Regions from separate parts of the Homo sapiens genome. Here region 2 is linked to region 1. The links come from fine-mapping of genetic effects on gene expression. Tissue or cell type: whole blood. Region 1 holds a variant in brackets; the other region holds the start of a gene. All regions are shown on one strand. Distances are from middle to middle.

Region 1 (5,232 bases):
TTATTTTTAAAAATTAGGCCAAACTGAATATAGATATTTAATCTGGTTTCACAAACTCTTAAAATAATTTTCTGAGGAAACAATGATGAGGAATGTGTAGGAAAGGCAATGTTTCTATGCTAGCGGTACCAAACCTGGAACTTTAAGTATCATTTTTTAGCTCATTAACTATATAGAAGATTACTAAGACCAGTAAGGGAGCCATTTTCTTCCCCTCCTCTATTTTTATTACTTATCTCTCTCCTCTTTACTCTTAAAATTGGCAATCTTCTGACAACCCAAGCTAATAAAATAATATAGCTATATATAATTCAAATAACTAAAGAACTTTTGAGTCCATATATGCAGGATTTTTGAATACCTCACTACATTTGCTCTTATACCCTCACTGTCCTGGTATCATAAATATTATTAAGGGAAGATAACTTAGAAGGGGAAAGCAATTCCAACCTGGGATAAAAAAGTGATTACAAATAATTATCTTGTTGATAGTAAGGGCTTATGGTAACAAGTAGCTCTGATTTTTCACATAAAGATCCCCCCCCAAAAAAACAAAATACAAACAATTCCAGTTTTTTTCCCCCAGAATGTGACTTATTTCCATTATACAAAGCAGTATAACAAAATAAGCTCTCTTCTGCACAAAAAACGATTAATGGTTTATAAGACAAATAAGTAGAATGCTTCTCTTTGCCTTTAAATTAAAATACTATGAACCTAGGTAACAAAACATACATGGCTTTCTTCAAAAGGGCCACAAGATTTCTTCTGGTTATTGTGACAGCTACCCAATTTAATGGGAAATAACACTCAAGCAGTCATTTGGTAAGTTTCCCATGAATTTCAGCATTTACAGTGCCACAAACACAACTGCCACAATTATGACAACTCTCTGAAAAGCACAAATAAAGCAAATTTAAAACATTAATCCTCATAAGCAGTACAAGGCAGAACAAAAGTGCTGAGTGGTAGGAAAATGAATAAAAATTTCCTATCAGGAGAATAAAGTTTGTGTAAACTATCTTATATCCTGAAGATCACTTTAATGACCACCTATAAAATACAAAGTTTCCTAAATACTCTCTGATTTATAGATATTTCTCTTACAGTCCACTGCTCCTATAAAATTACAGCAAAAAATATTAAAATTATTTACCTTCTTCTTAAATATCCATGGCACTTGTCAAGTACATGCTACTGTGAATCTACTGGTCATTATATAATTTAAAAATAGTGAAAAACATCTGAGGGAGGTGGCTACAATAACGAACATGACATATCCTATAGTATTAGGCAGAGAAGCTATCCTAAAACAAAATGAAACAAAATCTTTACAATTCTGGGTACTCCAAAAACTAAAATATCCATGTTCTTCTGTGATTAAGAATGGGACTTATCTTAATATACCACAAGAGGCTCAGCTCTGTATGATGGAGACAACATTTTTATATTCATCAAGAAAGCTAGTAAGTAATACTAACTTGAAAAACTACCATCTCAAAATAAAGGTGATTGACTGAGCACCTTAAGAAATGGGGATTCTTTTGAGCTAATTGTGACCAAGTACTTGTCTATATGTGACCATAATTGACAAGAAATGAAATTATATCACAGAGCTACAGTAGTAAAATTTGATGAAGGAACCTGATATTAAAAACAGAACTAGAGATCCAAGGAAGAATTAAATTCTGCCAGACAATTCTGGCTTTTCCATCATATATAATATTGGAATAAAATCAAATATGAATAGTTTTACATATACAAAAAAATAAGGTAAACCAAGGCTATTTCCAGGCAGACAGTGAATATATATATGAAAAATAAAACAAAGGTAAACCCAGAAAATTTTGGACTTTTATACTATCATATGTGACTCAATCTAAAAGTTACTCCAGGAAAAAGGCAGAAGTGCTATTAATTATCATCATCTGGGAAGCTTTCACCCAAATGAGTTTTAATATTTTCCAGCAAACACAAGGCACTTGCTTAAATCTTTATCTACACAGCCATCAGACTCAAAGTCATGATGTGATTCCAATGTACCCGAATCTGAATAAAGCCACCTAGCATGTACCCCTGCATAAGTGTCTAGGTAAATAGATGGTTACTGAGTGTCTCCCCTACTCCTTCACCCAGTAACTATGTTGTTACAATTACTATCATTTACAATGGTGCTGATTTTCATTAAATTAACTGTAAAAAAAAAAAAAAGTCATGCTGCCAAGTATACTGATAGTAGAACTTATGTGTAAGATAGGCCTAACAGTCAGAAAATAAGACCTAAAACAAAAAGATACCCAAATGTTAGTTATCTGCATGATAAATTAACTAAAACAAGCCATGAAACAGCATCTGATAAGTGCTCTAACTCCGCCTTTTATTCCAGAAAAGTAACTGATGCCCTTACCAGAGTGAAGGTCCAGTGTAATAAGACAGAAAAAAGCCTTCTGCCCATGGTTTCTCTTCAGCTTTCTCTATATGGCAGCATTCCTTATAATAAACTTGCTCAATAGTTAAAATATAAGCAACATGAATCTAGAAGACAAGTTAAATAAGTATTTGGAGATTTTCTTTTAAAAAATAATTTAACATATCTCAGCACTCTTTAGCAGCTGGAGTACCAAAAAGAAGGCAATATTTCTCTCAATAAAAACAAAGAGAAGTTCGAGTAAAACCATACTTA[T/C]GGTTTTTGTTCTAAAAGCAGCCAGTTTGGCTCAAGGCATAGCAGAAAGGGAATCCCTCTAAAGAGAGCTGCTATATTGGTGGCCACAAAAAAGGAAGACATCCAGTGGTAATAAATGCGGATCTCTTATTGCAAGAGAATAGTTTTAAAAATTCCTTTAAAAGGCAGTCAGTACTTTTAGTTAATGCTGTCTCTTACTGAGGTGTCCAACTCTACTTGTTTTTGTCCTGTAAATACAGCATTAGTTTTGACAGTGGCTAGCTAGCTACCCCCTCCAAATATATTTCAAAAGAATCAAGTATTTCCCACAAAATAATCACTGTATGTGCCTTTTCTGGGTGTACAATGTGCCACAGTAATACCCCAAAGAAGTAACTGGGAAGGTGAGAGGCAAGGAAGCACAGGTATTAATTTAGGGAATGAAACACTACCTGAGACAAAATTTGCCCAAAAGGGTAGGGGTTAAGTGACATGAACCCTCACCTCTTTACCCTTTCTCTCAAAAAGAAAATTTCTAGGTCTTTCAATAACTTCAATAAACCAAAATCCCTATGTATATATTTCATCCTAATCATGAAACTTGTATCTTTTGATATTTGGTTCAGGTTTAAGAAAGATAATATCACAGGAGGGAGGGGTAATCTGCTAATGTGATCTTTGGTAGAACGGGCTAAGAGCTATAAAATAATTTCAATCACAGGAGGCATTTCTTTTTCAATTCTCTGGCTTTAATATAAAACATCTAGCCAGGTGTGGTGGCAAGCGCCTGTAAACCCAGCTACTGGGGAGGCTGAGACAGGAGAATCGCTCAAACCTGCGAGGCAGAGGTTGCAGTGAGCCGAGATTGAGCCACTGCACTCCAGCCTGGGCAACAGAGCAAGACATCATCTCAAAACAACAACAACAACAACAAAAAATCTAATTAAATGCATGGTTAATTCAAGGCTCATCAATTATTCCCTCAGCTCCCTTAAAATCTAGTAACCATCTTCTGTAACAAAATTCTACAGTGTCAAGCACTAAATATATGTATGAATGTATCAGCAATAAGATGACAATCAAAGAATGCTGTGAAGATTGGCATCAAGATGTTAGCAGCATACTGCAGGACTAGGCTTAGAAGCCTACCTGCAGTTTATTTGTAAGGATTTTTCTTTTGGGGGCGGAGGGGAGAGAAAAGTAAATGTGCTAACTTAGGATACTTGCCCTTATAAAGAATTCCTTTGTATCCCATGTTCATCGTATTTAAGGACCTGATGTTTCTAATCACCACAAAATCTGCTACCCATATGAACATTTAGGAAAGTTTAGGTCTTCACAATACGGGTTCTGCCCACTTGAATTCTGACTTGAAAACAAACCAATTTATAATCAACTCCTGAAAGGGCCAAAATAAAAAATAATAGTTCTTCCTTCTAAGGGCATGTATTGGGGAACATGCCACAAGACCCTTTGGTAATTCATAAATCAGCCTCCTTATGCCAAATTTGGTTTCATAATAAACATTAAAGGAGAGTCCTGAATTTGACAATTATAAATAACTAAAATGTCAAACAATAATTGTTTGAATGGGGTAAAGTATTTCATTCTGTAAAATGCAAATTCTAACTGGACTCTCAGCAACCTGCATGGCAAACATAAGGAAATATGAGGAGGCTTCCAGCAGGGAAAGATAGAAGACTTTTTCCTTAGGAAAAAATAAATAAATAAAAAAATTAATAACCTGTATATAACTTGTCTTTTTTTTTTGGTATAATCAGTGCTTCATAAAGGCATCCTAATTTTTATATCTTTAAAGACAACCTACCATGAAATAAGAAGAATCCATAATTATAATTCTAAAAACCATGTAATCAACTTGTGTCCATGAACTCACGCATAGCAGCATCCTCTACTCAGGGACACATTATGTTGCTATGAATCCTTTTAAGAATTCTTTGAGTTTTTCTTCCTTTCTACTTCTACCTCATTATATCTACACCTTTCTTAACTACCTTGCAGTCAAAAGCCAAACTACCTGGGATGCTGCTCCTCTAGTTTGTCTTCAGCTAAGGATAGAGGCAAAGAATGAGGGAAGGGGAGGAAAAAGGGAGCAGGGATACGAGAAACAGAAAGGAAGAAAAAAGAATCCTTTTATTTTCCACCCTCTCTTCGCCCATTTTTTTTCTTTTCCCTTCACTGTACATCTAATTCTTTTGACCCACTTCAATTTTCATCATAGTAGGTAGAGCCACATCTTGAGAAACCTTAAAACTATAGATTTACTACAAAAAAGATGAGCTAATACAAAGTCTAAAGTAAACTAAAAGAGGGGTTGATTTACATCTGGCACAACTTAGTCTTTGTTCCAATCATTTTAGAAGTCTCAATTTAACTCCAGGCTAGACTCCAGTTTGTTCTGGGCCTCTCAGGAATTATGTTTTGTCATTTACATTGTATCAGACAGACTACCTCTCAAAAAATGTATATCTTAAATCTTACGGATGTGAAACAGGTAGGGAAGAAATAAGTATAGACTGTATTAGCTCACAGGATTCACACTATAAAGT
Region 2 (5,232 bases), 28 kb after region 1:
CCCGATACCCGTCTGTCTGAATATACTTTACATCCTAAAAAAGATGAGTAAATATTACAACCAATAAAAAAGCTGCTCCCTTTCTATCCATCTCTACAGTGAATTTACTTCCCTAAGAGTGCAGTAAACCCACTGCCAAGCTAAATGCTAAAAATTTTTAGTCCTTGATTACCATAATTCTTTGGTTCATTAACTGGGCAGTTCTCAGAGGCAAGCTGTACATTTCCATATAGCGCTCATAAAGAAGTCTTCTTTGGATTGTCTCTTACCTATTAGGCACTGCTGATAATAAGGACACTGCAAAGAAATGATAAACCATGGAGAAAAGAGGATTTGGCAGAACTATCATATGCATTCTGCCACGAGATACAGCCCCAACACTGAAGAGACCAGGAATAGTAACTCAGCAATTAGCCAAACACGCATAAAATTTAAAAAACCATTCTATGTAGGTTAAGTACTTTTAATAATTCCAGAGCTCTCATGCTTCACTGGCTCCTCCTACCTGACCCAAACATTATGTCCTTTTTTTACACGGTGGCACTGAAATTCTTTTGATTTACTGCATCCCCTGGCATTTCAGTAATTTAGGTTAAAATGACTTGTAAGCCCCTACTAAACTACCCTTGTCATTTAAAAATATTTGGCTTCAACCACTACATTTTAAACTGCGAGAGAAAAGAAAAGGTTATTTCTTACCTGATTGCCTTCTTTGAAGCTAAGTCCAAAGTCAATGAGTTTAAAACATTCATTCTCTGCACTCCACAATATGTTACGTGGTTTGAGGTCCGCATGGACATAGCCCTCATGATGAAGAAAAGCAAGGGCCTCCAAAACATCTCGGGCACAATGCTGTATCATCCACATGGAACAACCCTGGTGACTGGAATATAAGAGCAATTCCGAAACACTGACATCCAGGAGTTCAAGCAACAGACAGCGTGATGGCACATTTGGAGAAAAGTGGATTGTAAACACTCCATACAAAGTCACTAGAAAAAGAAATTATAATACTTTAAAAATCAGACTCAGAGTAAGTCACTACTAAAGTAGGTAACTGCAGTACAAATTTGAGATAGTCTAGATAAGGATAACTTTGATGAGCAAGCTTCCACTGTAATTTATTTTTCCCATGAATAAGATCTTTTGGCAATTGGGTTATTTTAATAAAAATAAGATGAGACAGCCTACAACAGCTGATTACCATTCACAGATACTAAATATGGTACAATTATTCAATTTGTGTTTCACCAAGTACTCATTGGTGATGAACACGAACTTGGAGTGCCAAGCAAAAATGATTAAAAGTAAAAAACCTAAATATAAATAAATAAAACTTACTGTTGCATCATGAGGTCCTTTAAAAAAAAAGAAATTTTTAAAAGTAAAAACCCAAATATTAAGTAACTCTTTTAAAAGGAATGTCACAATGCGCAAAAACCAAACTAAACATTGCTTCTTCATCCAAAACAGCAGTCTAGGTCTGCCACGGTGGCTCATGCCCGTGATCCCAGCATTCTGAGAGACCGAGGCAGGAGGACTGCTTGAGCCCAGGAGTTTGGAGACCAGCCTGGGTAACAAAAGGGGACCTCTTCTCTACAAAAAATTAGCCAGGCTTGGTGCTACGTGCCTGTAGTCCCAGCTACCTGGGAGGCTGAGGTAGGAGCATGGCTTTAGGAGGAATTGGAGGCTGGAGTGAACTGTGATCTCGCCATTGTACTCCAGCCTGGGTGACAGAGTAAGAACTTGTCTCAAAAAAAAAAACTAAAACAAAAATAAACAGCTCTCTATAATCTAAATACTAACAAAGAGATTAAGACTTTTCGGATGAAATTTTAATCTTGCAGAGATCAGGCAAGTCCCTAGGCTTGCAAAATTTTTCCCTTTTCAATACCAAGGTTATAGTAACAGACCATTTAGTAAACTAAAAAAATGTAGCACTAGTGTTAATTCTTCTCCAAAATGATATTATAAAAAAACTCACTCTTCAAATTAACTATGCATCATACTTGCTAGGAAATAAGACTTTTCTTTAATAACCAAAGCTATAACTAATGATAAGCTTTCTGTCGTGTAATGAAAATGAAACCTTTTCACAGATCAATCATCAGTGATCATTACATATCTTACATTCTGAGTATCTGATTCTTGAAACAGTCTCAAGAGAGCAAAGGTATAGTGTTCCTAAATTTCACACTTCTATAAAGGCTCCCATGGAATAGTGCATCATTTCTTCCAAATCCGTACTAAAGATATAATAGGTGAGCTATACGAGTTACTAGCATTGATGTCACAAGGCCCAGACGTAGTTCCCATTTTCTACTGGTATGCAAAGATTCAAAAATTTCCACACAAGACACGACAATCTAGCAAAGACATGCCTCCTCTCACTAGAAAAGATATTTCTGTATGCTAATGAATGCGGCATTCTCCGATGAGACTCGAAGCAAGACAATTTACTGAGCATCTATGTGACACCTGGCAAAGCAGACCACCAACTCCACTATACCGCAGACAGTAATAAAGTGAAAGGGGAAAGGGGCCTGGATGGGGTGATAAAGAGGGCTAAACCCGCTTCTCCCGCAGAAGGGGAGGAAGATGGAACGCCAGACAGCGAGAGGAAGAGTGTGCTCGGACTGTGACCTGGGCAAGAAGAGAAAGGAGACAGCGGCAATTACCGATGTTTCTGTGACCCTGCAACTGTTCCAGCGCCGCCCTCTCTTTGCGGAAACCATACTCGGCGGCAGAGGCCGCAGCCCCGGTGGTTCCTGGCGGCAAGAACTGCTTGAGGGCGCCGGGGGGCGAGCCAGGGTTGCCGCAGCAGCGAACCCGATACACCGAGGCGGAGGAGCCGCTACCCAGACGGCTCTGTACCTGCCACAGCCGCCCGAAGGCCTCCAGAAAACGCGGCGGCTCCGCGCCCCAGGCGCAGCCGGATCCCGCCATCGGTGTGGGTTAAGGGCACGGACACGGGAGCTGACGCGACGCCTGAGGCAGGCCGGCCGGGCCCGCGGTCACATCTCCGCCAGCCGGACCAGCGGCTCCGCAGGGAGGGACCTGCAGCCGCCTCACCGACTCCCGGGACTTCAAGCAGCCATGACACCGGAAGCCGTGGTGCACCCGAGTCCCAGAAGCCGGAAATGGAGGAAGAGCCTATCATACAGGCCGAAGGAGGGGGGGCTCAGAAGGGGCGGGGCCTAGAAGAGATTAGACGCGCTAGGTTTGGAAAAAAGAACCGAGAATAAGAAGTAACCTTAATTATTGAGTATCTACCATTCCAGGCCCAGTGTTAACCGCTTTCACATAGACCTGAAGCCAAAACTGGTCCTTTTTCTTGTTGAGGCACCTCACCTTACCTCACCACTAGGAACCCGAAAAATAAAACCCGGCCTACATTTCTCATAGAAAGGATCCCAAGGAAAACACCCCAGGAACAAAAAGAGAGTTTACCATCACCTCCAGGTCCACGGTCACCAGAACCCATGATTCTGGAAGCCTAGACCTTTGTTCTTCTTTTAGATGTAAACCGAAAATACAATTCTAAGCCCCCCGTGTCGCCAACCATCGGAATGGACTTTCTCCCAGGCCAGGGCACTCTAAAATTCTGGTTCAGTCCATGACGGGAAGTGGGGGTCCGACTAGCCTCATACCTCTCCGGTTAAGGTCAACACAGACCTTCGGTCTGGTAAGAAACATTTACAATCTATTTTCTTGGAAGCCTGGTACCTGGAGGCTTCATCTGCATGACAAAACTTTGGTCTCCACAAGTTCTTATGACAACCCAGACATTCCTTTCTATTGATAACTCTTTCAACCAATTGCCAATTAGAAAAATTTTAAATCTACCTATAACCTGGAAGGACCCATTTCTCCCCCCACCAATTCCCGCTTCGAGTTTTCCCACCTTTCTGGGCCAAATCAATGTATTTCTTAAATATATTTGATTGAAGTCTCATGTCTCCCAAAATGTATAAAACCAAGCTGCACCCCAACCACCTTGGGTACATGTTCTCAGGATCTCCTGAGGGCTGTGTCACAGACCATGGTCACTCATAGTTGGCTCAGAATAAATCTCTTCAAATATTTTACAGAGTTTAACTCTTTTTATCAACATAGTCCACCTTGCCTATGGCTCCCTCATCAAAAAGCATTCACCCTGGGCAAACACGGATCTGTTCCAAATTTTTATTTTTCATTTATTTATTCAATTATTTTATTCATTCAGCAAACGTTTATTGAGTAACAAATGTAGCAAATAGGCATCTCAATCCACAAACTCGAGTGTGTAAGAAATGTAGCCTTCTTTACTTTTCAGTCATTCAACCTTTTCTATTTCAAGATCTATTCTGATTGTGTGGCAAAAACTTAGTATCAGACAATAGGCCCTATCTTCTTTTCTTCAGGTTTTGTGTAAGTTCCCAGCCAGATGAGATGGTTCATGTAGTGCTAAGTGGAAAGTTTGAGGAGAGGTTGAGGACTAAACTCTGACCTGTCTTCTCTCTTGCTCAATTTTTTTTTTTTTTTTTTTTTTTTTTGGTAAGACGGAGTTTCGCTCTTGTTGCCCAGGCTGGGGTGCAATGGCATGATCTCGGCATCTCCGCCCACCGCAACCTCCTCCTCCTGGGGTCCAGCGATTCTCCTGCCTCAGCCTCCCAAGTAGCTGGAATTACAGGAATTTGCCACCATGCCAGCTAATTTTGTATTTTTAGTAGAGATGAAGTTTCTCCATGTTGGTCAGGCTGGTCTCGAACTCCTGCCCTTGTGATCCGCCTGCCTCACCTTCCCAAAGTGCTGGGATTACAAGCGTGAGCCACTGCACCTGGCCCCAAATTCTTATCTAAGGGATGTGAGGAGTCACAGCCTACAAACCATAAAATCTCATCAGATTGTCAGAGGTGTTCAAACCAGAGCAACTCCATCTTGAATAGGAGCTGGGTAAAATAAGGCTCAGATCTACTGGGCTGCATTTCCAGGAAGTTAGGTATTCTAAGTCACAGGATGAGATAGGAGGTCAACACAAGATACAGGTCACAAAGACCTTGCTGATAAAACAGATTGCAGTAAAGAAGCCAGCCAAAACCCACCAAAACCAAAATGGTGGTGAAGGTGACCTCTGGTCGTCCTTACTACTCATTAGATGCTAATTATAATACATTAGCATGCTAAAGGAAACTCTTACCAGCACCATTACAATTTACAAATGGTATGGCAACGTCCTGGAAGTTACCCTAC

What was found. PIP is the estimated chance that this variant, and not a neighbour inherited with it, causes the effect.
Region 2: UHMK1 starts here. The variant in region 1 is fine-mapped to the expression of UHMK1 in whole blood (TOPMed, PIP above 0.99).

Annotation. Positions count from the first base shown.
Region 1 is chr1:162,523,255-162,528,486 of GRCh38, reverse strand. UHMK1 (U2AF homology motif kinase 1) reads right to left here. Exons shown (of 8, transcript NM_175866.5): 8 at 1-5,232. Among named protein-coding and RNA genes, the nearest start is that of UHMK1, 28 kb to the right of the region's middle. The variant T/C (reference allele first, on the strand shown) is at 2,684.
Region 2 is chr1:162,495,715-162,500,946 of GRCh38, reverse strand. UHMK1 (U2AF homology motif kinase 1) reads right to left here and starts at 3,129. Exons shown (of 8, transcript NM_175866.5): 1 at 2,679-3,129; 2 at 700-992; 3 at 1-34. The coding sequence starts at 2,946. RefSeq lists enhancers at 2,392-2,892, 3,079-3,158, 2,893-3,393.